4 separate regions of the Homo sapiens genome follow, and regions 2, 3 and 4 are each linked to region 1. Evidence: fine-mapped expression QTL. A gene starts in region 1. Each other region holds a variant in brackets. All regions are shown on one strand. Distances are between the middles of the regions. Region 1 holds the start of ABLIM1 (actin binding LIM protein 1). Region 2 overlaps ABLIM1 (actin binding LIM protein 1). Region 3 overlaps ABLIM1 (actin binding LIM protein 1). Region 4 overlaps ABLIM1 (actin binding LIM protein 1).

What was found.
Region 2: its variant is fine-mapped to the expression of ABLIM1 in whole blood (TOPMed, PIP 0.98).
Region 3: its variant is fine-mapped to the expression of ABLIM1 in whole blood (INTERVAL, PIP 0.97).
Region 4: its variant is fine-mapped to the expression of ABLIM1 in whole blood (INTERVAL, PIP 0.91).

Annotation. Positions count from the first base shown.
Region 1 is chr10:114,653,950-114,662,058 of GRCh38, reverse strand. It overlaps ABLIM1 (actin binding LIM protein 1), which reads left to right and starts at 3,784. Exons shown (of 23, transcript NM_002313.7): 1 at 3,784-4,102. The coding sequence starts at 3,859. LOC124902588 (small nucleolar RNA U13) reads right to left here and starts at 5,564; the gene lies at 5,465-5,564.
Region 2 is chr10:114,509,693-114,517,801 of GRCh38, reverse strand. All of the region lies in intron 6 of ABLIM1 (actin binding LIM protein 1), which reads left to right. Among named protein-coding and RNA genes, the nearest start is that of AFAP1L2, 110 kb to the right of the region's middle. The variant G/A (reference allele first, on the strand shown) is at 4,343.
Region 3 is chr10:114,536,803-114,544,911 of GRCh38, reverse strand. All of the region lies in intron 6 of ABLIM1 (actin binding LIM protein 1), which reads left to right. Among named protein-coding and RNA genes, the nearest start is that of ABLIM1, 120 kb to the left of the region's middle. RefSeq lists enhancers at 599-708, 3,180-3,359, 3,710-3,759. The variant C/T (reference allele first, on the strand shown) is at 3,235.
Region 4 is chr10:114,455,226-114,463,334 of GRCh38, reverse strand. The region is part of intron 12 of ABLIM1 (actin binding LIM protein 1); the gene reads left to right. Among named protein-coding and RNA genes, the nearest start is that of AFAP1L2, 55 kb to the right of the region's middle. RefSeq lists an enhancer at 2,894-3,395. The variant G/A (reference allele first, on the strand shown) is at 4,710.

The DNA.
Region 1 (8,109 bases):
ATACTTGTCTGAGAAAAAAGACTTAAATCACTATATAGAATAAAGTCCATGTTCATTTGTGGAGAATCACTGTGACTGATGAAGAAAGAGCAGTAATTGAGGCATCTGTTCGCCGAGCACTGTGTAGCCCCAAAACACCTGGCTTTGGGCTGGGGCTCATCACATCAGGTGTTTATTGAGCTCCTACAGCATGCAAAGGCTGGGTGTCCTCAGTGCCCCTTGGTGAATTTTCCCACTGATGGTTCATTTTCATAGTCTATCATAGAAGAGCTTGAGTAGGTACAGTGGAACTGCTTCTAGAAAGATTAGGAATTTCCTATCTGATAAGATACACAGGCCAGCAAAATCTTGGGCAGAAGTTCAACATTTGTAATTATCATTAGCTTTGTAATGTGGTGCATTGTGATATCATATCATAGAACCATAGAAACGGTCACAAAACCCACTGCACTCCTTTGTGATTGCTGTGACTGTAGTTTTATGTGGGCTGTGGCAGAAGGCAGCAGTGAAAGACCTGAATCCACTGGTGCTTCTTTAGGGTCTTCCCCAACTGTGCTTTCCTGGGTGAAGAGGTTGCTGTCAGGCAGATACCACTGCAAGTCTATTTTTAAGACTGGAGGCTTGGCCTCTGCTAGGTATTTAACTGGAGCCATGTGGAGGAGGGTAAGTGAAAAGCTCTGAGCACTTGGGGAGTGGAACTTAGTTCACAGGTGTCTGCAGTCACTGCTGCCAGCATCTGAACTCTCATCCCTCTCCACTGCCTGAGAATGGAGTCAGCCCCCTCACATTTATATGTAGTTCGGTTGTCTTTAAAAGCAAGCAACCATTTGTTTTTCTCATTAGCCGTCTTCATGATCCATATGTAGTTTGCTTTGCATCTTGACCTAAAAAAGTATCAAAATTCTTACGTATAATTCCGTTATTGAATAAGAATTTATTTTCTTTTCCTTTTCGCAGTCTCTTAGAAGACAGTTGCATCTTGAACTAAATATATGGATCTGTAAACTTGTAAAAAAAAAAATTTAGGAGTGTTCTGTGCATGCTCTGCAGCTACAATGGCTAAGCACTGAGGTAGAGTTAATGCAGTGGAAATAGTTTTTGTGGGCAATGCTTGATGAGTTTAGGGACCAAGAAAGCCGAACAGCTTTGTTATGGAAGAGTTACCTTTTTTCCAGGTCAGGAAGATGCTGGGTTTGAAGGAAATAGTCTCTTTTCTGTCCAAAGTCTGTGTTTGTGCATTGTTACTGTGTTCCAGAGCCTGCCTTCAAAGTGGCTGTATCATGTTCCTCTATATAAACACATCTATATTTCACAAAAAGACCATGTAAGCACATATAAGCAAGTAGCTGCTCAGGTTCTCAGTTTGCAAAGAGCAGAGCTCCAGGAAACCCAGCAAGAAAGAATTAACAATGAAAGGCAGGGGTTCCCACACTACGATGTTTATTACAAAACACTCTAGAAGAACCTGGTAGGGCTGAGGTGGCCCTCGGGGATCTCCATCTTAAACAAATTGGCCCAGAAATCACATTTTGGGAAATACGGTTTTTTTTTTGATGGATGAATGCCACTTTTTTTTTTTCCAGTTGTATTTCTTTTCTTTTCTTTTTTTAAATTTCAATAGTTTTGGAGGGATCAGGTGATGTTTGATGACATGGGTAAGTTCTGTAGTGGTGCTTTCTGAGATTTTGGTGCACCCATCACCCTAGCAGTGTACACTGCACCTAATGTTTAGTCTTTTATCCCTTACCCTCATTTTGAGAAACATTGATAGAACATCTTACATTGTATATCTGAAGGTTCCTCAAAATAGGCAAACAGGGAAAAGAACACATACAGATTGTTTGACCTGCTTTGTAAACTGTTTTTAGAGGAAGACTTTGGAGGTTGGTGTTGGGCTTAATTCCCAGAATTTTGGAGCAGAAATTTTGAGGTGTGACTTCAGTAGTGGTAGAAGTCCCATGTTCCCACTTTCCCCAAGTCCACCTCAGTCTGAGTGCCTCTAGACAGCGTCTGTTTCTTCCATTCCCACCGTGCTTCACATTGGCATAGAATAATTCTAGCAAATTGGAATTCTCAGGTTCTTGAATTGTGTTGCCAATAGATTAGGAACTTGTAACAAAAGAAGCAAGAATTTCCTTTCTCTGCTTCATCTGCCTGGGGCCTTTGTGGAAGGACCCGACTATTGGATAGGAAGAGTCAGCATGGGAGGCAGAAGACCCGGCTCCACCCTAGGCTCTCTGCATTGTCCTGAGAAAGTCACATCTTCTCTGAGACTCACCTTCCTCATCTTAAAGGCTGGCGTAGATCAGTGCTTCCTGAGTGCTGGCACTAGTCTGGGAGAATGTTTAGAAATGTAAATGATGAGTTAATGGGTGCAGCACACCAACATGGCACATGTATGCATATGTACCTGCACATTGTGCACATGTATCCTAGAACTTAAAGTATAAAAAAAGAAAAGAAATGTAAGTTCCTGACCTTTACGTGCAAGAATCCCGTATATATATATTTTGTATTTTTCAAAAGTTCTACAGATTTTTTGTTTTGAGACAGAGTCTTGCCCGGTCACCTAGGAGTACAGTGGCACAATCATAGCTCACTGTAACCTCAAACTCCTGGACTCAACCAATCCTCCTGCCTCAGCCTCCCGAGTAGCTGGGACTACAGATGCATGACACCACACTTGGCCAATGTTTTAATTTTTTTTTTTTTTTCTGTAGAGACAGAGTCTTGCTATGTTGCCAGGGCTGGTCTCGAAGTGGCCTCAAGCAATCCTCCCACCTCAGCCTCCCAAAGTGCTAGGATTACAGACGTGAGCAACCGCACCTGCAGATGGTTCTTATGCACAGCAATATTTGGGAACTACTGGACTAGATTACCTTTGATGGCCTTGTCAGCTCTATAATTCTATTCTAGGGTTTTAATGAAAAGGAATTTATATTAGAACATAATAGCCCAATGACAGGAGAAGGAGTGTGAGTTTATTCATTTTGACTTGGGACTTTTGTATGGTTGTAGACGGTCACATTTTGTACTGCATCTTACTGTGTGGATGTTAAAGAGTAAATGATAATTACTGGGGTTGTCCTTTTTATATCAATACACTAATTCCATGAAGGTCCTTCTAGCTTGTAACTTTGTGTAAAGCTGAAGCTACCTACATGTTAATTCTGTCTCCATCATATGATTCTGCCATCACAGAAAACCCATGAAACATTACGACAGTAAACATTGGCTTAATGGAATGAGGCAGAAGGATTTTCCTGGTACTGAGGGGAGGGGTCCCCTTCTAGAAAATGGAAAGGAAATGATCGTTTACTATGGCTGAGAGCTGGATTTGTCACGAATTGAAGCTGAGGATCTTTATCGAGCCTTCCCCACCTCCACCTGTGAGATCTGAAATACTGGAAAACTTGGAATTATTACCCTGGGATTTTTCTGATAGACATTTTTAGATTATATAAAATATGTGTATATATCCCTAGCCCTATTCTCAGTACTCTTACCAGATGATACTGAATATTCTAGGAGTATTTGCAGGAGAATTCTTTTAGATATTGCAGTTATATTCTTTCTCTTATTCTGGATATTAATCTGATTTTCAAATATGCATTCATGTCTGAGACTGAAAGTCTCGAGTTCCTGGTAGTGGCTGTTTTTATACCTAGTCATCTGACTGAGAATATGGTGCCCTAAGCTCTTGAGGGTAATCACTTAAATACATCTCCCTTAATCTTCTTTGCTGGGCAGTGAGAAAAGGAGACAGTAAGGAGCCAGGGGAACAGAGAGAATTGTGGGGCAGCACCGCTCCTTGGGTCCCCACTCCCCATTTCTCATTGCTTGGAAATCCATGCCAAGATGCCTGCCTTCCTTGGTCTAAAGTGTCTGGGGAAATTGTGCAGCTCTGAGAAAAGCAAAGTCACCTCATCTGAGAGAACCAGTGCCAGGGGCTCGAACAGAAAGAGACTGATTGTTGAGGACCGGAGGGTCTCTGGGACCTCCTTCACCGCTCATAGGCGTGCCACTATCACTCATTTGCTGTATCTCTGTCCCAAGGACTACTGCCCACGTGGGCGTGTATGTAACAGCGTTGATCCTTTTGGTAAGTAAAATAACCCTCTCTGGACATGGTTTTGTGTTTTGTGATTGGCGTAATTAAGAGAGTACTATCCAGATCATTCTTCTGTAATGTGTTCTTCAAAGGAAACACTATCCTTAATATATAATTAATGGGGGTGAGGGTGGGAGAGATGGAGAATGTAACATAAGTGTAGCTACGGAGCTAAATCCCAAGGATATTTTTGTCCAGGATTTTATGATCTTCAGTAACAAATGTATCTCTTTCCAAACTTGGTATGAATAATTGTCAGTAATAGGAAGTATGATGGAAAAGAAAGATCTCTATCTGTAGATGTTATTATTTCATATGACAAAGGATGAATGGAAAGGAAATATTCAAGGGGGGAGATGGAGGCTAGCAAAAGATAAGTAAAGTTGAGGTCCAAATTGTGTCACTGTGTAGGGAGGGCTCGTCTTGTGAAATGTTCTAAAAAAGAAATAAAATAAAAAGAAAGTGTTTTAATATTGAGAGAACTTGTTGAGGCTTCTTTTCAGTGAAGCTCATTAAAACGTGTCACTCATCCCTCTGCCTGGGAAAGAGGTGGAGAAGGCCCACTCTGAGGATAGAGTTATTGCACTTGGGAGTTTTCAGACTTTGAAGTTATCATGGTGCCTTTGTTAATGAAGATGATACCTACCCAACTGCTCACACCTTGTCAAAGTCAGACCTAGAATTGGTACAGGAAGCAGAAGGCAATTAACCATGGTCCCTACGAATGTATGAAGTTAAGTCAAATAAGCCAGGAAGCATAACGCATTCCTCGTCATTCTTGGACAGCCAGAGTTGAATTGGATTCAGTTTAGCTGAAGTACTGGAGTTAAGATGTTCTGTTTTGTTGCAATCAGCTTTCAACAGCTTTATTGAGTTATAATTCATATGCTGTAAAATTCATCCATTTAAAGTCTATAGTTCAGCGAGTTTTAGTATGCAACTGATATGTTACATATATATTTTCATTGCCTCAAAAAGAAACCCTGTACCCTTTAGCTATCGCCTCCCCACCCCAACCTCTTCATCCCCATCTCTCAGCCTTAAGAAATCAAAATCTACTTTCTGCCTCTTAGATTTCCCTATTCTGGATATTTCATGTGAATGGAATTTATAATCTGTGGTCTTTCGTTTATGGCTTCTTTCACTTAGCATGTTTTCAGGGTTTACCCATGTTGTAGCACGTGTCAGTACTTTATTCCTTGTTATGGCCAAATACTATTTCACCGTATAGATATTCCACAATTTGTTTCTGCTTACACCAGCTGATGGACATTTGGGATGTTTCCAACTTTTGGATTTTATGAATAATGCCTCTATGCATATCCATATACAAGGTTTTTTTTTCTTTTTTCGTGTCAGATGGGTAATGTGCCAATGTCATAACAAGGTTCGAGGGTGGCTCACCTCACACACGCGTGTGTGAACACATCAAAAGGATCATCATATACAGGTTTTTATGTGGACATATGATATGTTCAGGGCTCTTGGGTGTATACCTAGGTGTGGAATTTCTGGGTCATATAATAACTATGTCTAACCTTCTGAAGGACTTCTAGATTATTTCACAAAGCAGTTACTCCATTTTACATTCCCACCAGCAGCATATTAAGGTCCCAGTTTCTCCACATCCTTGCTAACACTTGCTATTATCTGCCTTTTTTTTTTTTTTTTTTTTTTTGAGACGGAGTTTTGCTTTGTTGCCCAGGCTAGAGTGTAATGGCGTGATCTCGGCTCACTGCAACCTCTGCCTCCTGAGTTCAAATGATTCTCCTGCCTCAGCCTCCCAAGTAGTTTGGATTACCGGCATGTGCCACCACACCTGGCTAATTTTGTATTTTTAGTAGAGATGGGGTTTCACCATGTTGGCCAGGCTGGTCTGGAACTCCTGACCTCAGGTGACCTGCCTGCCTCCACCTCCCAAAGTGGTGGGATTATAGGCATGAGCCACCGCGCCCGGCCTTATCTGACTTTTTTATTCTAGCCATCCTAGTGGGTGTGAAGCGGTATCTCACTGTGCCTATACAGAGCTTTGGCTGGGACAGAGAGGGCTGACAAGCAGATCAGTGCTCAGGCAAGACAGGATACCGACTTCGACAGCTGCTGATGGTAACAGCTCCTTGTCTCTTACTCTTAACAGTCTTCTCTTCATGATTCCAGGCACATTCCTTTTTAGGGGAGCAGGGAGCGGGGATGAAGAAGCCATGCCTTCTGCCCAGTCCCCTTACAAGCTCTGCTAAGAAGACTTTGTTCAGAACCAGCTGAGTATGCCTATTGTAGCAAATGACACCTCCCTCAAAAATCAGATCCACATACTAGGGGATACCTAGAATCCCTTTATTGAGGAAAAAATGTTTTATTCCACAAATAGGAATAAAAATGAAACATGTAGATTTCTGCTGGAGCTAACACTTTATTCTGAATGACTTCGATGCTTCTATGGAATGTTTCTACTCAAACAGACTCAAATCAGATATTTTTGGAATGAGCCACTGTTGCTCTTGAAAGAGATAAGATCTGTTGGGAGGAGAAGGCAGGAAGGCAAGGGGAAGCCAGGTAAGCTGTAGTTTAATGAAAGCATGCTGGATAATGACTTATCAGCAGATTCCCTCACTTGGGAACAAGAGAATTAACAGTATCCGAGAGAGTTCTGGATACAGGAAAGGTAATCATCATTGGGATATCCATATCTTAGTGGAGGCAGATAAGGAAATCTGGGAGATTAGTTAAGTGTGGCTTTGAGGTTGGACATTCCAGAATTTGACTCCCAGCTCTTCTACTCACTAAATGTGTTACTTTGGGAAGTTAGTGATTCCAAGTGCGTTTCTCTGTCCCTAAGGTAGGCAGGGAATGCATACCTTATAGGATTGCTTTGAGCAGGCCTATCCCTAGAGTAGATGGGGCCCTGGGCAGATTTTTTTTGTAGGGCTCCTGTCTATATAAACAATTTGAGTCACCCAAAGCAGTGTGTCAACAGCTCAATCTGTTTCAGTCTTGGGAAAGAAATGCCACACCAGCCTGAGGAAGTGATTGCTTGCTAGGCTTGTCCCCTAGAATGGAGCCAGCTCCAGGGCCCCAAGAAACCCATTGGCATGACTCCTGGGGCTCCTTGGGGCATCTGGCCAACCCCTTGCACAGTATGGGAGAGATGCAGAGGATCACTAGAGAGATCTGTGAAGAGGAGGCTCAGATTCCCCATCCAGACAGCACTGCTGGCCCCAGCGATCCCAGGTACCAGAGCGCACTTAGACATTTTTGAGGAAGGAATGGGGTTAGGGCAGGGGCCCTGCTTGCGTGTGTCTAAGGGCAGTATTGATTATGAGAACTAAATGAGAACCTGGCTGGGCATGGTGGTGTGGGCCTATAGTACCAGCTACTTGAGAGGCTGAGGCAGGAGGATCACTTGGGCCTAGGAGTTCAAGACCAGCCTGGGCAAACTTGCAAGACCCTATCTCAATTTTAAAAATTGTAAAAAAAGATAAAAATAAATTTAAAGAATGAGAACGTGCATATCAAAGTGTTTGGTATAGTGGCACACAAAAGCATCCACTAAATGTTAATTTCAGTAATAATAATAGAATTGCAATATAGTCAGCATTAGTCATTTTTGACAGTCTCTATGGAGGCTGAATTAAAATAATAAAATAAGAAAAAATTGTTTATTATTGTTAAAAATAATTTCTATTGTTTGCCTTCCATGCTGTGAAACAATAGAGGCCCAGAACTATAGATGCTGCACAGGACGTGGGATTCCCAGAAAGCCACTGTGTGTTCAGAGCATCCTGTTTAGGACAGGTGCTTGGAGGAAGTGCGCCCTCCTGCAGCCATGCATGTTCCTGTGCTACGAAGCCCCAGAGTGTTCAGGAGCAGCTCCTGGCAGGGTGCTTGGGAATATTTGGCAAAGGCCTCCTCCAGCTGCCAGAAAGATCTCACGATGCTGCAGCTTCCTGTTATTGTCTGGTGCTCAATCCCTGCTTTGAGTTGTGCTGGACTCCATGATT
Region 2 (8,109 bases), 140 kb after region 1:
CATACAGGTGACGAGCTAATAAAAGATTTGCATGATGAGGAAGGTTTCAGACAAACTTTAGCTTCAACATTGTGGTTGATTATGAGGCAATTTCTGTGAAATCCTAAAAATCCCAAGTTTTTTGTCCTGCTGTGAACACAGTTTATCGCAAAAAAGTACAGACCCACATTGTACTGTGGCCCCCCTCCCCGCCCTTTAAAGTATGCGCTGTCGTTGATGCCTTGAATTCGTTCCTAAGGATATCATAGATCACCACAAACTTGGCAGCTCAAACATGACAGAAATGTATTCTGTCACATTTCTGGAGGCCTGAAGTTTGAAATCAAAGTGTTGTCGGTGTGGAGTGGGGGTTCTTCTGGGGGCTCTGCTGGAGGGTCTGCTTCATCCTGTCCCCTGGCTTCCAGTGCTGCAGCATCCTTGGTGCTGCGTGGCTTGGAGCTGCATCGCTCCAGTCTCTGCCTTCATCTTCATGTGGGTCCAGCTTGCCCTCTTGGTCAGTTTCCTTGTCTTGTCTGGTCCCGTCCTGTCCTGTATTTTGTAAAGACTTGTCATTGGATTCAGGGCCCACCTGAATCCAGGATGGCCTTCTCTCAACACCCTTACCTTAATTACATCTGCAAAGCAGGTTGGACATATCTTTGGGGGACCACAGTTCAACTCAGCCCATGCCCTCCCATCTAAAAATCGGAGTGCTTGCTCTTCCCTCTCAGGTTTTTCCTCCTGGAGGTGAGGAAAGGGGCAAAAGCCTTGTTCTTGTCGTAATCAACAGCCCTGCTCTTTGAGGATAAAAAGCAACAACAAAAAAAAACGGAGTCCCAAGGAATGGCATCTACTATTAGTTAATCGCAGGTCCCAGAAAAGCACCAGCCAGAACTGCAAGTCTTCTAGGAAATTTCTTACTGAATTCAGCAAAATAAGAGGCTAATGAGAAGAGTGTTTGCATATCTGATAGTCTAACTGAAAGGAAACAGAGGAAGAAAAATGTGCTTTTGTAAGCCCTGAGAGTTTTAGCTGAATGGCAGCCTTTCCCTGTGATTAACTGGCATTAATTATTGTTTCAAAGAGTTTCCAAGGTTGACTGAATCCAGTGTGAAGCTCACAAAACCAACACCATCTATTTGTTTTATTTCTCAGGAGAAAGTTATATTAATGCAAAAATAAAGAATTGTGGCTGGGTTTGTGATCTGTTTTCAATAGTTTCTTTAAGGAAGCAGCTGTTTTTTGTGTTGCACAGGGTACTTGGATGCGAAACAGTTTTTGTTGTTTTGGCTTTTTTTGGAGACAGAGTCTTGCTCTGTCACCCAGGCTGGAGTGCAGTGATGCGATCTCGGCTCACTGCAACCTCTGTCTCCCCAGTTCAAGCTGTTCTCCTGCCTCAGCCTCCCTAGTAGCTGTGATTACAGCCACACACTACCATGGTTGGCTAATTTTTGTATTTTTAGTAGAGACAGGGTTTTGCCACGTTGACCAGGCTTGTCTTAAACTCCTGGCCTCAAGTGATCTGCCTGCCTTGGCCTCCCAAAGTGCTGGGATTACAGGTGTGAGCCACCACACCTGGCCGCAAAACATTTTTTATGTTTAAAATTGATACCTGCTCACCTCACTCCCTTAGACAATGTTTAAAATTGATACCTGCTCACCTCACTCCCTTAGACAATGTTTAAAATTGATACCTTGCTCACCTCACTCCCTTAGACAATGTTTAAAATTGATACCTGCTCACCTCACTCCCTTAGACAATGGCTTTGGTCGCAAGGGACAGAAACTCACCTCAAACCAGCTGTATTTTGGAGCCAGCATAACAAAGCACCACTACTTGGATGTTTTAAAAAAGACAAATTTAATTTCCAACAGCTCTGGAGGCTGGTGAAATCAAGGTGTGGGTAGAGCCATGTCCTCTCTGAGCCGGTAGAGGAAGATTTACCCTGGCCTCTTCCAGCTTCTGGCCTCTTCCAGCTTCCTTGCTTATGGCAACAAAACACCAACCTCTGCCTCTGTTTTTGCTTAGAGTTCTCCTTGTCTGTCTCCCTCCCTCTTCTGTTCTTATAAGGACATCAGTCATAGTGGATTAACAGCCCAACCTATTCCAGTATGAGCTCATTCCAACTAATTAACATCTGCAACAACCCTATTTCCAAATAAGGTCACACCCTGAGGTATTGGGAGTTAGGGCTTGAACATATCTTTTTGGGGGACACAAGTCAACCAGTAACATCAGCTGAAGCAGAAAAGAGGCTCACATAGCCAAGCCGCTGGAGGGGACAGGGCCTTAGATGTCATTAGCATCCCGTCAGCTCTGTCTGCTTATCTGTGTGTGTCATTCACACTCACGAACTCACTCTGCATGAAAAGCATAAGGCTGCAGCTCAGGGATTCTCAACCATGGTGGAAAGGGCTCTTGTACCCCCAGCTCACATCCTGAAGTCCCAGGAAGAGATTCCATCGGAATGTCACCTCTCCAGCTCTAGACCATTCACTGTGGCCAGGGAGAGGGTCACGGGAGGGAATGGCAGCTTCCACATCTGGATTTGGGGAAAGATCCCACTGCCGCACACCAAAAGCAGGGTAGCCTTGACATGGCCGCTGCGGGAATTGTGAGCTCAGGGTAGCTGGCCCAATTTGTGTGAATCTCAGAACTAACCTAATTCGAATGCAGCATTGCAGTCACGTGTCACTTAAATGACCCTTGTCATGACTTACCTTTAATGTGATTTTATGCACGCGCTCCTTCTCACCCATCCCCTGCTGCATTGACCTGGACTAAACTGCTTTCAGGTTCTGGGAGATCTCCTCAGAAGTTGTGTTAGATTTTTCATTTCTCTGGAAGGTCAGTGCATTTGCATTTGGGCAGAAACTCATGGTGACTATACTAATAATTTAATCTTTAGTCTCAAAGGACACCATGGTGGGTAGGTCTCAATGACAGGCGCTTTTCCTCTCTTTTTTAGTTTTCAATCTGAAGCTTTTAAACTTCCAAAAAGAATCACAGTAGTGTAGAAATAGTCTTAACTTCTGCTAAATGGCCTGTGGGAGGCCTGCTTCCTGTACTTTGAATACCTTTTCATAGGTTTTCATGCAGTCTGCAAGAAAAGACAGTTTTATTTCAACTATAAAAATTAATTCAGGTTGAGAGTGGTGGCCACGCCTGTAATCCCAACACTTTGGGAGATCAAGGCAGGAGGATCACTTGAGCCGAGGAGCTTGAGACCAGCCTGGGAAACATAGGGAGACCCTGTCTCTACAAAAAAAATTTTTTTAAATTAGTTGGGTATGGTGGCACATGCATCTGTAGACCCAACTACTTGGGAGGCTGAGGTGGGAGGATCACTGAGCCCGGGTGGTCGAGTCTGCAGTGAGCTGTGATCACGCCACTGCATTCCAGCCTGGGCAACATAGTGAGACCCTGTCTCACAAAAGCAATAATTCAAAGGAATGACTGCAGAAATTACAAAAACAGCTGATAATTCAGAATGCTCATTTCACTTTATTTTTTTTTTTTTTTTGAGACAGAGTCTCGCTCTGTCACCCAGCTGGAGTGCAGTGGTGCGATCTTGGCTCACCGCAATCTCCGGCTCCCCTTTCCCCCTCCCATTCAAGTGATCCGCCCACCTTGGCCTTCCAAAGTGTTAGGATTACAGGCGTGAGCCACTGCACCCGGCCTCATTTCACTTAATTATGTTTGCTTCCAGCTAGTATCGGAAAGCAACTTTTTTATTCTGTGAGTCTTAGGTGAGCAGCAGTAGAGAAACTTACCTGAGATAACTAATCTGTAGATCCTAAAAGTGATGCTTGTGGAGCCTGTAGGACAGATGCAGTTATTCCTTGAGTATAGTCATTGAGTGATGGTGTCATGTGAAAACTTTGCAGGCTTGGATGATATTTTCAGGAGTATATGTATCTTGGAAATTTGCAGTATGACCCAAACTTGGCACATCTTAATAGTCAATAAGAATTTGCAGGGGCACTAAATCCTTGCTATCTCTCTGGCAAAAGATAGATTTCTTGGTAGTGTTGGCATCGACACCTTTCATGGAAAAATCGATTGCTTGTATCTACTAGCTCTGTGCTAGACAGGAAGCACTAAGAATTCATTTGGTGGTTCTTTCATTCCTGGCTTATGAGGGATACCCTTTGCTCCTACCCGCCACCAAGGTGAATTCACCTTGACCCTGAGCATACCAGCACACAGACCAAGTTGGGCTTTGATTGCTGGTCATTTACAATAGGTTAGAAAGGGGTGAGCTGAAGCATGTCGACTAGATGAAATTGCCACAGTGTGGTATTAACCTGCTCAGGATAAATTGAGTGTGAAATTGTTACTGCCGGATGTTGCTTGCCAGTG[G/A]GGTTTCTTTTTTTTTATTTTCTTTTATGTGATAAATGTTTTTGCTTGATTTAAGAGGTGGTAGAATACTGGCTGTTACTGAAATGAAGCTAATTTCTTCCTGTTCTGAGCCATTATAGCATATCTTGCGGACATTTGAAACACATTTTTCTCCTAAGATAGCTGCATTTCTGAATGAAGAACTGATATGCTTTCTTTCTAAATTCATCACATTTCTTTCTAAATTCATCACGTTTATCAGTTAAATGTACAAGGGGTAAGAAATGAATTTTCAGCAGATTGTTGTACCTGAAAAATTACACAGAAAAGTAACTTTAGGTGAGAAAGTATCTGGTAAGTTTCTCAAAGGTTTAGGTTTTCTGGGTCTGGTTTGGTTTGGTTTGCTGGGGAAAGGGAGGATGGATGGAGGAGGATGGATGGAGAGTACAGGTGACTGTCTTCTTGACTATAGTGTAAGTGATAGGAAAAAACTCTCGAGTTTTGGTATATAAGTAATAAAAGCAAAATTCGGCTTGCTTGCTTGCTTTCTCTCTTTCTTTCTCTCTTTCTTTCCTTCCTTCCTTCCTTCCTTCCTTCCTTCCTTCCTTCCTTCCTTCCTTCCTTCTTTCCTTCCTTCCTTCCTTCCTTCCTTCTATCTGATGGAGTCTCACTCTGTCACCCAGGCTGGAATGCAGTGGCACGATCTCGGCTCACCGCAACCTCCACTTCCTGGGTTCAAGCGATTCTCCTGCCTCAGCCTCCTGAGTAGCTGGGATTCTGGGTGCACACCACCACACCCAGCTAATTTTTGTATTTGTAATAGAGACAGGGTTTCATCATGTTGCCCAGGCTGGTCTTGAACTCCTGACCTCAAGTGATCCGTCCTCCTCGGCCTCCTAAAGTGCTGGGATTACAGGCGTGAGCCACCACACCTGGCCTGGATTCTGCTATCCTTCTAATCCCAATTTACAAGTTATATCTTCCGTGAAGTCCTGCCTGACCCCTTGAATTATAGTTAGACATTGTCCCTTCCTCTGGATTCAGAAGCAGGATCTTTCACTCAATGAATGTCTATTGTCCACTTACTATTTGCACACTTCGAGAATGCAAAGATGAATAAGGTTCCTACGTAAAGCCTTTTGGCTTCTCTGCAGACTGGTCCCCAGAGGAATCAGCATGTCACGAGTGAATAAGAGGTACTCCGTGAGTGCACATTGCATTGGATTGTAACACATTTTCTTTCCCCAGTTCGCTAATTTCAGCCCTTTTTACGCACAGGAAAAAAACATCCTTTTGTTTGGGCTCCTGTCTTTAATAGACCCATTACTTTTGGAATAAGCAGCTTCCCCCCAGGAAAGTTCACCTGAGTCATCTTGTGCTCAGCACGACTGGCCTGCAGCAAGGAAGTGGTACCAAGCAGCTTTACTGTCCTAATTGGACAGAAGGAAATTGACTTGTCTTGGATGGGGATTATCCAGGTCTTTCTGCTCCAGGAAGACACTGAGAGAGCATCTGTCCACCTGAGATTGTTTGTTGATGAGAAAGTGATGCCACCGTGTTCAAGTTTGAGGGAACTGCAGAGCAAGACCTTCTGGGTCCACAGGAAAGAGAGGTCTTTAAACTTAATGATGCTCCGAACAGCTGGAAGGGGAAACTGGAGAATATGGACAGTTGGCTTTTCTGCTGAGAGTTGAGACTAGTCTCTACAGATGACCTGTTTGATGCAAACTGAAAGAATTAGAACAAGTCTTTGCCAAAATATACACTGGGAACAAAATGATAGGAAATGGGACTTTTCTAGAAAGACATGAGAAGGGGCCAGGTGTGGTGGCTCACGCCTGTAATCCCAGCACTTAGGGAGGCTGAGGCGGGTGGATCACTTGAGGTCAGGAGTTTGAGACAGCCTGGCCAACATGATGAAACTCTGTCTCTACTGAAAATACAAAAATTAGCTGGGTGTGGTGGTGCATGCCTGTAGTCCCAGCTACTCAGGAGGCTGAGGCATGAGAATCACTTGAACCTAGGAGGTGGAGGTTGCAGTGAGCCGACACTGCACCACTGCACTCCAGCCTGGGTGACAGAGCAAGACTCTGTCTCAAAAAAAAATTTTTTTAAAGAGGTGAGAAGGGTATAAAAAAAATTAAAATGAAAAACATTGCTTAGAATAGAATAAAATCTCGTGGATTCAGCAATACATCTTGCTCTTAAATATTTGTTCTGCCATTGTTCTGTGACGTTAGAATTTTCCTCAGTGATAAACTTACATTTTTTGTATACTAGTTTGAGGTATAATTGATTCTATAAACAAGAATTTAACATTTCATTCTTGTACTATGTTAACTGATTATATAATTATACTTATAATGTGCGATTATAAAAAGACAACCCCTACCTTAATGGAACTTAAACTTTAGTGGAAGACTTCAAAGATATTGATAAGTTCAAGGCACTACCTTAACAGAATAAATAAATGCTGTAGGAGCACAGAGGAGGGAGGGAACACACTCAGCTAAGACTGAAAAGACCCTGTGGCAGGGCACAATGGCTCAGGCCTGTAATCCCAGCACTTTGGGAGACTGAGGCGGGTGATCCCTTGAGCCCAGGAGTTTGAGACCAGCCTGGGCAACATGGTGAAACCCCATCTCTAATAAAAATACAAAAAGTTAGCTGGGAATGGTGGTGCATGCCTATAGTCCCAGCTACTCAAGAGACTAAGATGGGAGGATCACCTGAGCCCAGGAAGTCAAGGCTACAGTGAACCAAGATCGCATCACTGCATTCCACCCTGGGTAATGGGAGTGAGACCTTGTCTCAAAAAAAAAAATAATAAAATAAAATAAAAATAAAATCCCTAGAGAAGGTAGCAGTAGAAGCTTGGAGCATTGGTATTTTGTTATATGAAATAGACTATTTTATACAAAAAAATACCTAATATGTGTTCAACGCCCATTAGACTCTGGAAATACAAAAAATGAATGAGACAATGTCCTTGTTCCCAAGAAATTAAAGTCTAGTGGGGAAAAATCTGCTAGGTAGCCAGCAGTTATAATTCATTGCATTATATAAATGGCATGTGCTTTATATGAATATATAAATGTATATTCAAGTCAAGAAATACATGCAAATCAAAGAAAATGCCTAAGTCCAGGGGAGCTGGAGAAGGCTCATTTCAGTCTAGAAGTTTTCAACCTGGGCTACACCTTGCAATCACTTTCTCTAGAGGGGCCCCAGGCAACTATACTTTTTTAAAACTACCCTGTTGATTCTAATGCACAGAGAAGTTTGAGAGTAGCTTCTCTCAGGAAATTTAAGATGTGGGAAGGTATAGGCAGTGATATGGTTTGGCTGTGTCCCCACCCAAATCTCATCTTGAATTGTAGCTCCCATAATTCCCACATGTCATGGGAGGGACCTGGTGGAAGGTAGTTGAATCATGGGGGTGGGTCTTTTCCATGCTGTTCTCGTGGTAGTGAATAAGTCTCACAAAATCTGATGGTTTTATAAATGGGAGTTCCCCTGCACAAGTTCTCTTGCTGGCCGCCATGTAAGACGTCCCTTTGCTCTTTCTTCATCTTCCGCCATGATTGTGAGGCCTCCCCGTGTCAGCCATGTGGAACTGTGAGTCCATTCAACCTCTTTCCTTTATAAATGACCTAGTCTCAGCTATGTCTTTATTGGCAGTGTGAGAACGGACTAATACAGGCAGGTTAACATATTTGAGGCTGACGCAGAGCCCACATGGCCAAGGCATGGATGAGGGTGTGGATACCAGGTAGGCAATGAAACTG
Region 3 (8,109 bases), 120 kb after region 1:
CTTTTTTTCACCTGTGGAGAAAGAAAGTAGTCGCAGGTGACTATTTTCAAGAATTAAGGTGCTGCACTCTCCTCAAAGGCTCACGTGGAAATTAGAATGATGGAGAATTTGCACAGGAAAAAAAAAAGAATGATAAAGGTTCTGGTAGGAGTTATGTAGGACAGGCTATATTAGACCATTTTCATTTTTAGAAGTTAGACAAGAGTAAATGAAAAGGGTGTGAAATCATGTGTGTATACATCCATGTGTGCATGTGTGCATATGTCTATGCATGCATCTGTGGGCGTGTGCAGATTCAGGGAGCAGAGGCTCAGAATGGAAGCTAAGAAAGGAAGGGTGGGGGAAAGGTAGAGGCATTGGCTTCCCCAAACTTCAAAAACCACATCCTGTGTGACCCAGAGCACCCTGTGGCCGGGGCTGAGCTGAAGCCTGTCAAGTTCAGGTGCAACCGCCTCCAGCTAGGGAGCTTTCTTCCTGCTTTCTCAGCAGCCGCCACACAGGCTTCTGCCTCTGGGCTGAGCCAGTTCCTCTGGGGTGAGACACAGAATTCTGGGGCCAGAGTTCAGAAGGAGTCGCTACCCTACTTCTCCCAGGCCTGTGGGGTGTCAGCCAGGTCCAAGGAAGAAGTAAGACTGCCTCATCTGTGGCCCACCTGCCAGCGTGGAGAGTATGGCCCAAGCAGAGGTGGGTCAGGAAGCCCCACAACTAGGGGGATGACTACAGGTGCTGCAGCTTGTCATCTTGCTTTGTCAAGGACCAGGCTGCTAAATCCACGGAGCCATGTTCCACCTTCCCAGCAGGGCACGTTTCAGAGACACAGACACAGATCTGAGGCCCCCCTCCCCGCCACCATGGTGTTTCTGGGCTGTGCTGTCTCTTCCGTGGGGTTTCACAGCAAAGGCCCAGTGTAGCCCCCTAAATCCCACTGTAAACCCTTTCCATGAAGCACAGAGGGGCCAGCATTGGATGTGTGCTGGGACGTGGGCAGCTGATTGCATTTGGGAGAGAAGGGTGTGGTTGTGGTCAAATGCAGTTGCCTCTTAGCCCGAGGAAGAGGGTTCTGGGAAGAGGGAGCAATACCTGCAGAGGCTCAGAGGTGAGGAAAAGCACAGGATACATAAGAAACGTCAGTTGGGCACCGATGTGACAGATGATGCTGGAGAAGTGGGCAGGGTCCCAAGAGTCATATTCTGGAGTTTGGGTGTTACCCTAAAAGCGGTAGGAAGCCATTGAACTGCTTGTAGCTGGAGTGTCATGTGATTAGACCAGGTTGTTGTGTAAAGAACGTATGAGAGTTCTCAAATCTATGTACGCACGCGTTCACAGCAGCCCTATTCACATCAGCCGAAAGGTAGAAACAACCCAATGTCCATCAGCAGGTGAATGGATAACAACATGTGGTGTATCCAACTAGTGGAATATTATCCAGCCTTGAAGCAGTGCTGCCAACCACAGGATGAGCCTTTAAGTAAAAGAAACCAGCCACAAAAAGCCACATATTGTATGATGCCATTTATATAAAATATCTAGAATAGGTAAATCCATACAGATAGAAAGCAGATTGGTAGTTGCCAAAGGCTGGGGGAAGGGGAAATAGGAAATTACTGCTTTATGGATACAGGATTTCCTTTTGGGGTGATGAAAATATTTTGGAATTAGAGGAGGTGGTTGCATAGCATTGTGAATGAATGTACTAAGTGCCACTGAATTGTTCACTTTAAAATGTTTAATTTTATAGTACGTGCATTTCAGCTCAGATGTTTTTTAAATGGCTGGGAAGGGAGTTGGGGTGGAGACAGGCCAGCTAGGAGGCTACTACAGAACTTTGGGCACAAAATGATGGTGGTGCTAGCTGGAGTGGAGCCTGAGAAATGGGCCCCCACCCTCCGCACACACAGGAAGGGTGGAAAGAGTTCTCTCATAGCCTTTCCAATAAAGCTTTAATTATTGACCCAAGGACACTTCAAAACTAGTGTCTTGACCAGGGAGAAAGAAGCATATCCCCAGGAAGGCTGTTGGAGAAGGTGGATGGGACCCACCTGATGGGGAGCTTGGAGTCCGAGCGGTCCCATCACAGCGCTCAGAGTGTGATGCACAGGAGGTTGGTGCCTCCCCTCCTGGCCCTGAGTCCATCCCTCATCCCTCCCCAGAGAGCTCTTCTCAGAAGTGCCCTGATTGGGGCCTGACGCCATTTCCCTTGGGATTCCTGAGTTTGATCTCTTGTGGAGGACTGAAATAAACCTGTTGAGTTGGGGCAACTTGGAAATTTCCTTCTCCTCCTCCTTCTTCTTTCTCTTTCTTTTTTCTTCTTCTTCCTCCTTCCTCCTCCTCCTCGTCCTCCTCCCTTCTCTTCCCTCCTCCTCCCTTCTCCCTCCTCCTTCTTCCTTTCTTCCTTCTAATTTCTTCTTTCTTCCTTCTTCTTTCATCTTTCTTCCTTCTTCATCATCATCTTCTTCTTTTCTTTTTTTTTTTTCTTTTTTCTTTCTTTCTTTTTTTTTTTTAGAGACAAGGTTTTGCTCTGTTGCCCAGGCTGGAGTGCAGTGGTACAATCATACCTCACTGCAACTTTGAACTCCTGGGCTCAAGCTATCTTTCTGCACAGCCCCCTGAGTAGCTGGGACTACAGGTGCATGCCATCACACCCAACTGATTTTGTTATTTTTTGTAAAGAACGGGAGTCTCACTCTATTGTCCAGGCTGGTCTCTAACTCCTGGCCTCAGGCAATCCTCCTGCCTCAGCCTCCCAAAGTGCTGAGATTACAGGCATGAGCAACCAAGCCTGGCCCTCATAAAAAGAAACAATAGAACATCAGAATGATTTCCCAGATGTCCAGCTGTACAAAGAGAGACGAGAAAATACTGAACGTGGTCCCCACATTTGTGACAGCCGTGTTTGCAGTCTTCTTAGTCCACATGTGGAGCTGTGTTCCCCCAAAACATGCTGGGGAGGGAAAAGGGCTCTGTGTGTGTGTGTGTCTGAGTGTGTGAGTGTGTGTGTGTGTGTGTGTGTGTTGATTCCCTTCAGATTTAGCTCAACAGCTGTGGGGAAGAAAATCTAAAATAAAGCTAGATCCAAGAACATGCCATTTGGAAGAAACATGTGCTTACTCTGTTTTCTGCTTCAAGACCTGAGTCATTTGGCATTCACTGTGGCTGCAGAGACCTCTTCTCAAATTGGCTTCAGGTTTCTGTGAAGGCCGTTTTGTGAGGCCTAAGACTTGGAGACTTTCCATG[C/T]GGGGCTTTCAGAGTTGAGGCGTCTGGGAGTAGTTTGCACCATGTTCAGCCTCCACCCAGCAGACGTAGTCCTTAGATGGGCGTGTGAGCTAGAAAAACGTCCTGCAGGGTTATCACACTGACGTGTGACAGCTTGTGAGTCGGTTTGGCTTGGTTACCAACACAAAGCAGGACGGTCTCCACACACTCCTCCCTCGGCCTCTCATGCTTGGGTCTTGGTGGTGGTGAAATATTGTGATGGTGGATTTGTTGTAAATACTGTGAACCTTGGGGTTTTGTGGGTTTTTTATATTTATTTTATCCACAGATGAATTTATTTTATCCCTTTACAAATGTATTAGTTTTCTGTGTCAGCTGTAGCAGTGGTGGCTTAAAGCAACAAGCTTAAACAGTTCTTGAGGTTCTTGAGGTTAGTTCTTAAACTGAGTTCTGTCAGTTCTTGAGGTTAGACGTCTGAAAGCAAGGTGCAGGCAAGGCAATGCTGTCTCTGAAGGCTCTAGTGAAGGGCCTTTCCTCGCCTCTCCCAGTTTCCGATGGCTCTGTGTGTTGCTTGACTTGTGGCAGCCTCCCAATCTCTGGCTTTGTCTTCACATCGCCTTTTGCGTGTTGTCTCCTTTTCTCTGTTACAGTTCCCTCTGCCTCTTTCCTGTAAAGCCACTTGTCATTGGATTCAGGGCCCACCCAGATAATCCAAGATGACCTCACCATCTCAAGATCCTTTGCTTAATTACATCTGCAAAGACTCTTCTCCCAAATAAGCTAGCATTCACAGGTTCCAGGGAATTGATAGGGAGTCTCTTTTGGTGATGATCGGGTCACCATTCAAGCTGCTTGAGTAAGCCTGGGAAATCATGCACGTATCATCCCAGCGAGGCCTGCAGACCCTGTGTGGTTTTAATTTAACACTCACTGAGCCCTAAGAGGACCCTAAGGCCTCTCTAGGTGTGGTGTCACCAGAGATGCCACCAGACACCTGAGGGACCTTTGAGAAAGAGAAAGGTCACTGGACAATGATAGAGAAGAGACGCTCCAGGTCTGGCTGTGTCACTCATTCCTGAGTGACTTGGGGCAGGTTGTTCAGCCTCTTGGGGCTGTCTTCATTTCCCAGGTAAAGGGACTAGCATGTAACCTCCAGCAGCCCTCGAGTTCTCTCTGTCTCTGTCATTCCTTAATCCTTGTAAGCCCTGAAAATCACATCAGCTTGAACGGGTGGGGAGACGGGCCCGAGCACCAGCGGCTCAGTTGAAAAGGCTCTGGGTGGCAGCCAATCTGAATCTGTACTCACCAGCTGGGGCCCCTTGGGCAAGGCTTGCCACTTCTTTGAGCCTCAGTTTTCTTTTCTTTAAGTGCAAGAATTGAAAATATACGTGTAATTCCAAGACTTGGGCTGCTAGACCTCCCGGAGTCCCTTCGGCTCTAAGGATCTGAGTTCTAGAATTCTCATGTCTTGGCTGTAAGGGATCAGACAGAACCAATGGTTCTTTTTTTCTGGAAACCAGCACGTAACACTCAGCATAGAGCATACACTCAAATTGTAGCTTGATTTCTCATCACTTGTTTTCAGTTTTGTTTTCGACAGCAAGATTCTCTTTTTAGGGGGATCTTGCTATAAATGGTACATCTTCAAATGCTTCTGCTGATTAACTTATAAATTTAGGAGAGTTCTGAAGATATTTACAACCTGCCTCCTAATTAAGAAGTGCAGGGGCAAATTAGTGTGAGATACTCCAGTTTGCTCTCTCCGTCTTTTCTCCAAACTTCTCCCGCTTCCTTCTCCCCTCCTCCTCCCCCTTCCCCTGCCCCCACCTTCTTTCTGCCTAACAGCCTAATGGTAACAGGAAGCTGGAAGAGACTTCAGACCTAGGTCACTAATGTCATGGGGGAGTGGGGCATCTCTTTGGAATGCATTTCTTCCCATCTTTGGTAGATAGCCCTAGGACAGCTCTCACTCCAGCAGACATCCTTTCCAGGGTACAGGTGGTTACCTGCTAGCCTCATAAAGAAAAGAAACAGCAACAAAATGGTTGTTATTATCAACAGCAACAGCTAGTTTCAAAATGAAGGCAGCTCATGGTGGGTGTAATCAAGTAAGGACTCCCAAATTTATAAGGGGGTTAGTCTCATATCTCCAACCCTAAATTTAAGTAAGACAGCAACTGAGTTTCTTGGTCTCTGTTTACAAAGGTATAACCATCTCTAGGCACATAGCTAAAAGTAGATTGTTTTTGATGGTGCTTTCTTAAGATATGGAATCTTCTCTGGAACACCACACTCTTAATGTAATACTTCCTATACCTCTTTTTTGTTGTTGTTGTTGTTTGAGACAGAGTCTTGCTTTGTTGCCCAGGCTGGAGTGCAGTGGTATGATCTCAGCTCACTGCACCCCCCACCTCCTGGGTTCAAGTGATTCGCCTGTCTCACCCTCCTAAGTAGCTGGTATTACAGGTGCACGCCACCATGCCCAGTTAATTTTTGTATTTTTAGTAGAGATGGGGTTTCACCACGTTGGCCAGGCTGGTCCTGAACTCCTGACCTCAGGTGATCTGCCCGCCTTGGCCTCCCAAAGTGCTGGGATTATAGGCGTGAGCCACTGCGCCCAGCCCCATACCTCTTTGGATTAGATAGAGGTTGAATCTATTCTTGACAAGTGTTTGGAAAAAAAAGCAAAAGTCAAACTGAAAACAGAAGCCTGGAGGGTAAAGGAAAAGGTTTTGTCCCATGTGTTCTTCCCCTAGTCTTGGGCTGTTTTACCAACAGACTAAGGAAGGGTGGGCTTGACTTTCTCTTGGCCTCTCAAGCTGTCTTATGCAATTCCTATGCCCCCAGGGGCTACCTGTGTGCATGGAGCACTGCACTGGTTCACTCAGGACAAAGGCGCTCGGCCCTCGTCCCACACTGCAGAGTGGTACTTCCCTGAGCAGGCACCTGCCAGGCTGCACGGGAGCATTCTTTTGTTCTCCTCCCTGAAAGGAAAGTTGTCTTATGTGCATTCTGACCACAGAGGGAGAGGGCGGGGCTCTGAGTCCCACGATTTCCCTTTCCTCACATCACCGCACCCAGAAATCAGTTGGCCTGGGTTCATCTAGTCTTTCTGGGCGGGCTGGTGGCACCTGTCCTTGTGTCTCGTGGTATTTACTGTGCTACCTGTGCTCTCTGGGAACGTGCAGTGATGTCTGTGACAGCCTGTACACCCACCACATAAGAAAGAGCCTCAGATGGAGCCGAGGGAAGTCCTCTAGACCCTGGAATGCCTGTCCATTCTGCCCTACGAGGCCACCCTCCCCTGTCTTTATCTGTTAACTTGGAAAGGGTGGACAGCAGGACAGGATTTAGACTCGCTTTTAGACCCCTCCTGCTGAACTCCTGGGGTGAAGGAAATGGAATCACAATGGGATTCAGCCAAATCCTTTTCCTTGGCTCTCAGAGGAATTAAAAACTGGTGGCTCTGTTTTGTTTTGCTTTTGGACTGATTAAAAAACTGCTTTTTCACAAAGCTGAGGGGCAAATGTTTATGATGTTTCTGAGGTGAATTCACATTATAAATTGGAGGCCTTTGTCCCCTTCCTTCTTTTTGGCATAGGTATTTTAAGTATGTTATGTGGCAGTAATCATAAGCAGTGAGTAGGTCTTGTTCTGGGCTAAGCTATTCTCTAGTGAGCAAAACATAGGTTATCCTAGGATGCTTGCATGACATCTAATCTTTTTGTCACCATCAGAGATGTAATTTGCAAAAGAGAAGCTGACATGTCAATTCCCCTTTTCTTGTTCTGTGTATATCATACACTTGCAAGGAACAAATAATAACCCGTGTCCATGCTGAAGGCTAATTGCATTCTTCTCATTCTCACTGTGCTCAGAGGAATTCATGCTTTCATCCAATTAATTAATTGTAGACCCAAATATTTTTGAGGATCATGTTATCTGATCCTGTTATCTGAGTATATTGGTTGAGATGGTCTGTCCCAGTGGACAGTAAGCCACCACTGTATCCTGACTTTGTATAATATTTTTAACATCTGCAAGTGATCTCATAAACATTTAATTCTCACCACAGGCCTGCAAGCTGGTCAGGGCAGTTAGTTACTAGTCACCTTCATTTACAGATGAGGCTACTGAGTGCCCGAGACTCTGGATCTAATTGGTGTGACAGAACCATGATTAGAAAATAGATCTCTTAGGTTGGTGAATGGATACAAACATGCAGTTAGAACAAAGAAGTTCAATGTTCAGTAGCAGACTAGGGTGACTACAGTTAACCAGCAATATACTGTATATTTCAAAGTAGCTGGGAGACAGAGATGATAAATACTGAAGGTGATAAATACTCCAGATACCCTGACTTGAGCATTATACATTATATGCATGTAAAAAAATACTCATATGAACCCCATAAATATGTAAAATATTATGTATCAATAAAAGAAAAAATAAGGAAAATAGGTCTCTTTCAATTCTCAGAAGATAGGGACATACACACATAGAGACAGAGAGAGAGAGTGAGCCTGAACTTTATTATCTACCTGACAATAATCATTACAGAAAACAAATAATTTGCCCCTTGATATAACTTGCTGAAGGACCAAAAGTTACCATTCCTGGTGGATGGTAAAGGCCTGTCTCAGTGTCCCTTTTATACCTATTCTCAGGACAATAAACATGTACTGCTTGGTTGGTTTACTTTTTACCAGTGTAAAATGTCACTGAAAATCAGTGACTTTGCTCATAGAGTCTGCTGTGTTTCTGTGCCTCATAGTCTGGCCTCCTTGAAGCATCTGTAGCCTCCACCAGGCCACCTGGCTCTGCCCTTAGAGAATGTTGTAGATGGATGATGCTGTCTCAAGTTTGAGAGCATATTTTCTTCATGAAGCTCTGGTC
Region 4 (8,109 bases), 200 kb after region 1:
CTTAGCAGGTGCACTCTTAACCCTTTCTCCTTCCTCCCTTTTCAGCCTCCTGATTAACGTTCTTTATTTTGTTTTCCCTTGGAACGATGGCACTTTCCCTGCTCCTGTGTTAATTTCTGTTCTTCTTTTCTGTTTCCACCGTGCCCTGCCCCTGACTCCTTGCTGCACAGAGCTTTTGTCTCCTGGTGTGCAGAGGTTGTCGTACCTGCGCACCAGCAGCCTCAGCCCCACCCACAGCGACTCCCGCCCCAACCCCCCTTTCCGACACCACTTCATTCCCCATATCAAAGGTAAGGAGGCAGGTTTCTCCAGGCAGCACCCTGCATAGTGGAGATTTATTAGCACCCTGGGAAGGCTAATAAGGTGTATCTCCAAGAGTTAGTGCCGAGCTTTTGAGCTCTCAGCATGCCTGCGTGTGTCATGACTATACCCAACAGTTGTCTTAGAACGGGCATAGCATCTCTCATTGGGAGAAATATGTCACTTCTAAGGGCTCTAGATGAAGAAGCAGGAAGTATGTTTAAGACCATAAGATTTATTATCCACTACTTTGAAAAAAGAAAATATATATATATATATTATTATTTTGTTTTTGGATGCATCGAAACAAAATATAATATATATAATTGGAATATTTTCCTGGGTTCAATACGCAACGTGTCTCAGCAAAACACGACAGTGTTTAGTAACAGATATCCAAAAGTTGTCTTACCGGTGATAAACCATGACCATATTAACATGTTTGGGCAGCATTAAAAGATCTATGGCAACATCAATGTTTCTCTTTGAGCCGACTCTCAGAGCAGTCATCTTTTGATTTGTCCTAACTCCCACATGATGCAGAAGAGAGGCTTTGCCTTCTGTTTTCTGTTCCTGCCTCACATTTCTGCCCCATCCCTTCTTTTTCATCATTGTCGGCAATGCTTCTGCAGCCGTCCTCAGTTGGGACTCTCCACACTGGGGGAGCCGAGAACCCTGAAGAGGCTACAAAGGGGTCATAATTTAAAATTAAGTAGGAGTTCCCAGAATGGTGCGAACTTGATTTGAACCAAATAAACCAATAATAATAGCTGAAGGAGGAAGGAGGAGGCAAGCACAGATGTTATCACAGGTCTTAAAACAGTCCTAAAGGACTCTTAACCATGTGCTGCTCCATGTGTCATGGCCCTGATGCTTCCATTGAGGAGCTTGTTCTGGTTTACTGAATTTTCGTTGTCAGTCTACCGAAGCTTTTTCTTTGTGCTCACTTGGTTGTTGAGCGGCTGAATCCTAAAAGGTACATGTACTGTACTTATCAGTATGCAGTGATTTTATAAATTTGCTAATTTCAGCATTCTCTATGTTTTGAAAATAATATTGCTTATTGAAGCAATCATGCTTATCAAAGACACACATACCTGGAGTTAAGGTACACGTGCCATTTGCCATTAGCAAATTTTTTGATAGGTGCAACACTCTCTAAAACTCTTGACAGATTATTTTACTTTATTTTATTTTTTTATTTTTTATTTGTTTTGACACAGAGTCTCACTCTGTCACCCAGGCTGGAGTACAATGGTGCAAACTTGGCTCACTGCAACCTCCACTTCCCAGGCTCAAGCGATTCTTATGCCTCAGCCTCCTGAGTAGCTGGGATTACAGGTGTGCACCACCACACCCAGCTAATTTTTGTGTTTCTGGTAGAGACTGGGTTTCACTATGTTGGCCAGGCTGGTCTCAAACTCCTGGCTTCAAGTGATCCACCCGCCTTGACCTCCTAACGTGCTGGGATTACAGGCGTGAGCTATCATGCTCAGCCGACAGATTATTTTAAATTATAAGTGCTAATTAGTATTTTGGGGGAAAATTTTTATTTATAAAATGTCAAGATTATACTTTAGAGAATGTTTATAAAATCATAAAGAAATTATGCTGTTTTTTTTTCTTAAAAAAAAAAAAAAACCCTTCAGTTGTGTATTTTAAAGAGACTTTAATATAACAGCCATTAGCCAAATTAAGATTTTGGTTATTTCTGCTGAGGTGGGCAGATTGCTTGAGCCCAGGAGTTCAAGACCAGCTTGGGCAACATGGCGAAACCCCATCTCTACCAAAAATACAAAAAAAAATTAGCCGGGCATGGTGGTGCGTGCCTGAAGTCCCAGCTACTCAGAGGCTGAAGCAGGAGGATTGCTTGAGCCCAGGAGGTGGAGGTTGCAGTGAGCTGAGATCGAGCCACTGCACTCCAGCCTAGGTGACAGAGCAAAACCCTGTCTCAAAAAAAAAACAAAAGAAAGAAAACAAAGATTTTGGTTATTTCTGATATTTAAGAAAAAATGCATTATTGATTCATTAAAATGTAAACTTCCTCACTTGGCTATTATATGTTTTAACTTGTAGAGAGATACTTTTTGTAGAAAGAAAAGTGTCACAGGCCCTATAAAGTTACACAGTTTGTCCAAATAACACAGCACAAAGTGTCCATAAATGGTCAATGACTAATACTGCTTCATGTCCATGAGTGGCCATGTGGAGAGTTGAAAAGCCCATGGGCATTGGAATCTGGGTTCAGATATGATCTCCGTCACTTGCTAGCTGTATCACCTTGGGTTGCTTATTTATCCTGTTGAGTGTCACTTGACTCCTCTATAAATCAAGAACAATGAGACTCCTACATCACGAGGTGAAGTGTCTTGGTGTGGGGCACACCCACCTTGGTCAGCATGGTGCTCTTAAATTGCTTTTTTTTGTTTTTTTGGAGACAGAGTCTCACTGTGTTGCCCAGGCTGGCATGCAGTGGCACAATCTCAGCTCACTGCAGCCTCCGCCTCCCAGCTTCAAGCGATTCTTCTGCCTCGGCCTCCTGAGTAGCTGGGATTACAGGCGTGCGCCACCACGCCTAGCTAATTTTCGTATTTTTAGTAGAGACGGGGTTTCACCATGTTGACCAGGCTGGTCTCGAACTCTTGACCTCAAATGATCTGGCCGCCTGGGGCTCCCAAAGTGCTGGGATTACAGGCGTGAGCCACCGCGCCCGACCTTAAATCATTTTTGATGCCATCATTCTGTTCACTTTTCACAGCATTCTTGGGAAATGGGCTCAGTGAGGAGACCAAGTACAGAGGCCCTGGCTAAGTAACTGTCCAGGGGCTCACCACTAGGACATGGCAGTGCTGGACTAGACCCAGGCCCCCTCCTCCCCAGGAACGCTCCTTCATATGAGGGCCATGCGTTTCAGTATAAATATGTGTGAAGATAATTTTTAAAGCACACTTTTATTTTTCATCCCTTTTAGCCAGAAAATTGCATTCTTATTGACTCTTAGACCAAGAATGATCCTCAGTCATTTAGATCACAAAATTAAGAAATATTTACTTTTCCATAGAAATATTAAATGGTTATAAAAATTATAACACCCCTATGTTCCTAAATGGTGCTTTATTAAAAATGTAGATATACATTCTTTTCTGTTTTCAGTCTGCATTTGAAGTGTTTGACACCGTCAGGTGTTCTGGATTTAAATGATAAAAAGCATTATCCAAAAGGAATTAGTGACCCTGAACTTAAAAACATCTAATAGTCTCTCTCCCTTTTTCTTTTTACTAGACGTGTGCCTATAGTTTGTTCATATGAAATAGTCTTTATGCTTCAGATGCAAAGTGTAATGTACATAACAGTATATACTTAGTTTTTCAATCATATGAGCTTTTTGCCAACCTTAAAGATAAATCATTGGCTGCTTTGGGCACACTGCCTATTGGGCAGTCCTGCTCCACAGGGAGCAGTGTAAAAAAAAAAAAAGATATGTGGTGGAGATTTTGTACATTAAAGATATTGCTTTAAAAGCCTAGTGTATTTGGCTAAATGTGGATTCTCCAAGGAATTACGTCTTAGTTATTTTGAAAAACATGCATCCATTTACATGGAAGACCTCTCCAGCACTTAGAAATTTCTGAATGGGGGGAGCCTATGGCCATTGATAACACATCCAAGATATCTTTGAGATAAGTCAATGTCTTCCAGGGTTTTTTGTGGCCCTTCATTGACTTTTATCTTGGAGCTTGTCTTGGAACTTGAGGGAGTTTTTGTTTGTTTGTTTGTTTGTTTTGTTTTGTTTTTAATGGATGTGAGCTGGGAGCTTGACCTAAGGTAGGATGTCCATCTCAGAGGCAGGGGGCGCCCTTTGCCACTCTGGCAGCCAGAAGCCCAGCCTTCCATTGCCCAAGTCCACTTCCTGTTCCTTGTTTTTGCAGCATGTGACCCAGGCCTGGGGCCTCACTGAGCTGAGGACGCCTGCATGGTTGTAAAGCTGAGATGCACGGCACAGACTGTTTCTCTCCTTCACTGGCTTCCCCATTCATTTTCCATAACATCCATTGTTGGTTGGGTGTATTTTTATTTCTGTCCTCCAAACTTCCTTGTAGCCTCATTCTATCTTAGTATATCTTTGGGCCATTTGGACAACCTTATGCCTAGAGATTTGGAAAAACCATTTTCGCTTTGTTTCGGGCTTCGTTTGTAAAGTGTCTGCTAAGTTTCTCTTGCTTCCCCTTTGAAATACTGCTAGACATGACATTCTGTGTCCATGAAGTATAAATTGGATTTCTGAGCAGGAGGGTTACATATATTAAGTTTCTTTGAAAGGAATCTTTCCTCTTTTGCTATAAATATGAGTTGCCATGATGTAAATATATATTTGACACTTGCTGAAGGAAACCGTAACTCTTATTGAC[G/A]CTTTAGACAAGAACCGGCAATCTTAAAACTGTCACAAAATTCTGGATGCTGCCAACTTATCTTAAGGTTCCCTCAAGATGTTCATTTATATTTGGGGATGTAAGCACTCTGAGTCCAGAAAGCTAGGCAGTGCTCCAACAGGTCCCCACAGCAGAATCGCACACCCCCATCTCTATTCGCTTGTCTTAGAATTAGTCACTCGGGCTCTCATGGTGCCAAAAAGAAGAATGAAAGTGGAGATGGGCATTTAAATGTGTTAAGTACAGTGAGAGTCCTGTGAGTGAATGCTCCCCTGAGGTCTAAAAAATTAGCTTACTAGGCTAACAGGAAAGGAGGTAAAAATGAAGGCCAAGAAATAGAAATAGAAACATAAATAGAAATATAGTAGCTTGTCACTACAATAGATGAGAACACTAACAACTTAGGGTAGCCCAATCTGAGGACTTAAAGGAACAAAATAGCTATGAGTGTGATATATATATATATATGTACTATTGTATTATGTGCGCACACACACACACACACACACAGAGTAGTTTTGTTTTTTGTTTTGAGGCAGAATCTCACTTTGTTGCCCCAGCTGGAGTGCAGTGGTGCAATTTCGGCTCACTGCAATCTCCACCTCCCGGGTTCAAGCAATTCTCCTGCCATAGCCTCCTGAGTAGCTGGGATTACAGATGCCTGCCACCAACACCTGGCTAATTTCTGTATTTTTAGAAGAGACAGGGTTTCACCATGTTGGCCAGGCTGGTCTCAAACTCCTGACCTCAAATAATTCACCCGCCTCAGCCTCCCAAAGTGCTGGGATTTCAGGCATAAGCCATCATGCCCATGCCCGGCCTATTATTTTTAAACAGTATCTTATTCAGGGTTGATAGATGATGACAACGATGATGATGAAAATAATGATATCTTCCAAATATGATATTTCATCTGGTGTGTCACACATTACTTTGTTTAAGTAAGGAACTATGCACAGATGGCCTCTTAGGGCCCCCATAAGTTATTTCCTGCCAGGGTTGGGTTCAAAGTTATATCATTTAAATAGGGTATTGGCCAGGTGCAGTATCTCACGCCTGTAATCCCAGCATTTTGGGAGGCCAAGGCGCCACAGATCACTTGAGGTCAGGAGTTTGAGATCAGCCTGGCCAACATGATGAAACCCCGTCTCTACTAAAAACACAAAAACTAGCTGGATGTGGTGGCGCATGTCTGTAATCCCAGCTACTTGGGAGGCTGAGGCAGGAGAATCGCTTGAACCTGGGAGGCGGAGGTTACAATGAGCCGAGACTGCACCACTGCACTACAGCCTGGGCAACAGAGCAAGACTCTGTCTCAAAAAAAAATAAAAATAAAAATAAATACAGATAAGGTGTTTAATTTAGAAAAGGGAAAGAGGCCTCTTCCTGAGAATTTTCCTTTTTCTTTTAAAAATGCCCAAAATTTGTCATGCCTTTGGTATTTCAAGGGCTAAGAATTTGGTACCTAGCAACATTATGTATTCCAAGAACTTATTCCCCGATGAGCGGTTGTGATATGTGAAAAGCACATTCTGCAGAATTGCTGAGATGGGTGTGTTATTGGGTCTCTCTTTACCTGATTTTTAAAAATGCTTTGTGGGAAGTTTTAAATGATTATAGTTACATCTGCTTACAAAATTTGAACAAAGTAGTGTTTTTTTTTTTTTTTTAAAAAAAAAACAACTAGAGAGGTGAATGTTTGCTGAAGACATCCAGCCTAATATAGAACCACACCCAACTGGTGACAGCATTCAGCCAGAATCCAGTCCTTGGGAATTCAGACAGCTACTCCATAACCTTTGAGAGGCTTTGACCATATTCAAGAAGTGAGGGGCTTCTACAGGCACTGGCCAACACAGGGTCTTGTTGATAGAAATATTTTAATCCCTGGACAAATGTCTAATTCTAATAACCTTAAAGTTTGTGTCCTGCATATGCAGATATTTTTGTGTGTGCGTGACACTGGCTAATAATGATAAAAACTGATTTAATGGGGGTTCATTTGATTGTGTATTATAACCAAAACCTACGAGAACTTTCCTGGAAACATCTGATTTTCTGCAAGGACAGTGGAGGTCTATGTGAAAGAACAAAAGCATGGGGCAGGGGGGTTCAGAAGCAGTAGTAAAAGTTGAGACCCATTATACCTTCTTTCGAGAAAAGACCGTAAGAATGATTCTGTTTTTCAGTTATGGATTACTCTTGTTAATTTCTAATGTTCATAGGATTAAATCATTTTTCTTCAGTGAAACATTTATATTGGAGTTGTCAAAGATTAGCTGTAATGGGAAACTTATAAAAGGGGTGTTGTTGTGAGCCCAGTGCTGTACACAGGTCTTTACTTATCATCATCATTTACTTGGAAACTGTGACTTAAGTGAATTGAAATATTAAAAAAACTAGTTTTTCCCCTCATCAGTGTTCTAGGTTGAAATAAACGACGTTCTTCAAGGACCTGCTATATGTTGTTTTGCTTAAAGTTGCAGTTTCCAGCCGGGTGCGGTGGCTCACGCCTGTAATCCTAGCACTTTGGGAGGCCGAGGCGGGTGGATCACGAGGTCAGGAGATTGAGACCATCCTGGCTAACATGGTGAAACCCCGTCTCTACTAAAAAAATTCAAAAAATTAGCCGGGCGCGGTGGCGGGCGCCTGTAGTCCCAGCTACTCAGGAGGGTGAGGCGGGAGAATGGCGTGAACCCAGGAGGCGGAGCTTGCAGTGAGCCAAGATCGCGCCACTGCACTCCAGCCTGGGCGACAGAGCGAGACTCCGTCTCAAAAAAAAAAAAAAAAAAGTTGCAGTTTCCTGTAACCTGTTGATATTAAGTGAGGACTTATTGCACTAGCATCTGGCTTCCTTTAATTTAGAGAAAATTGATGGTGAATCTTGCCATGGTGCTTGCTAAATTAGGCCAATAAATAGCTGTGGAGGTAATTAATTGGCCTCCTTCAATCATTCATTCACAGACATTTATTAAGCACTTACTCCTGGCCAGGCGATACCCTGAGCACTGATGATGACAAATGAGACCAAGTTTTAATTCAGCAACAGGTTTAAAACACTATTTCCTTCTAAATGCAAATTATAATCTTCCTTCCCCTGTTTTCCTCTGTGTTTTTTATACTCATTTTTTCCCGATAGGAACTAGTTACTTCTCTTTAGGAGAGGGATAAATGAGATAACATTTTTATAAATTAGCTTTTTAATAGATCAATAGTTTGGGATGATATTTCATAATTTTTAGGAACTAATATATGACTTAAATAATAAAGTCAACATTATAACATATTTGGGTCTGGATGCTAAACCAGCTCTTGAGAAGAAAAGACAAAAGTTTCAGAACACCAATAACCAAAAGCCAGAAATCTAAATTTGACTCAG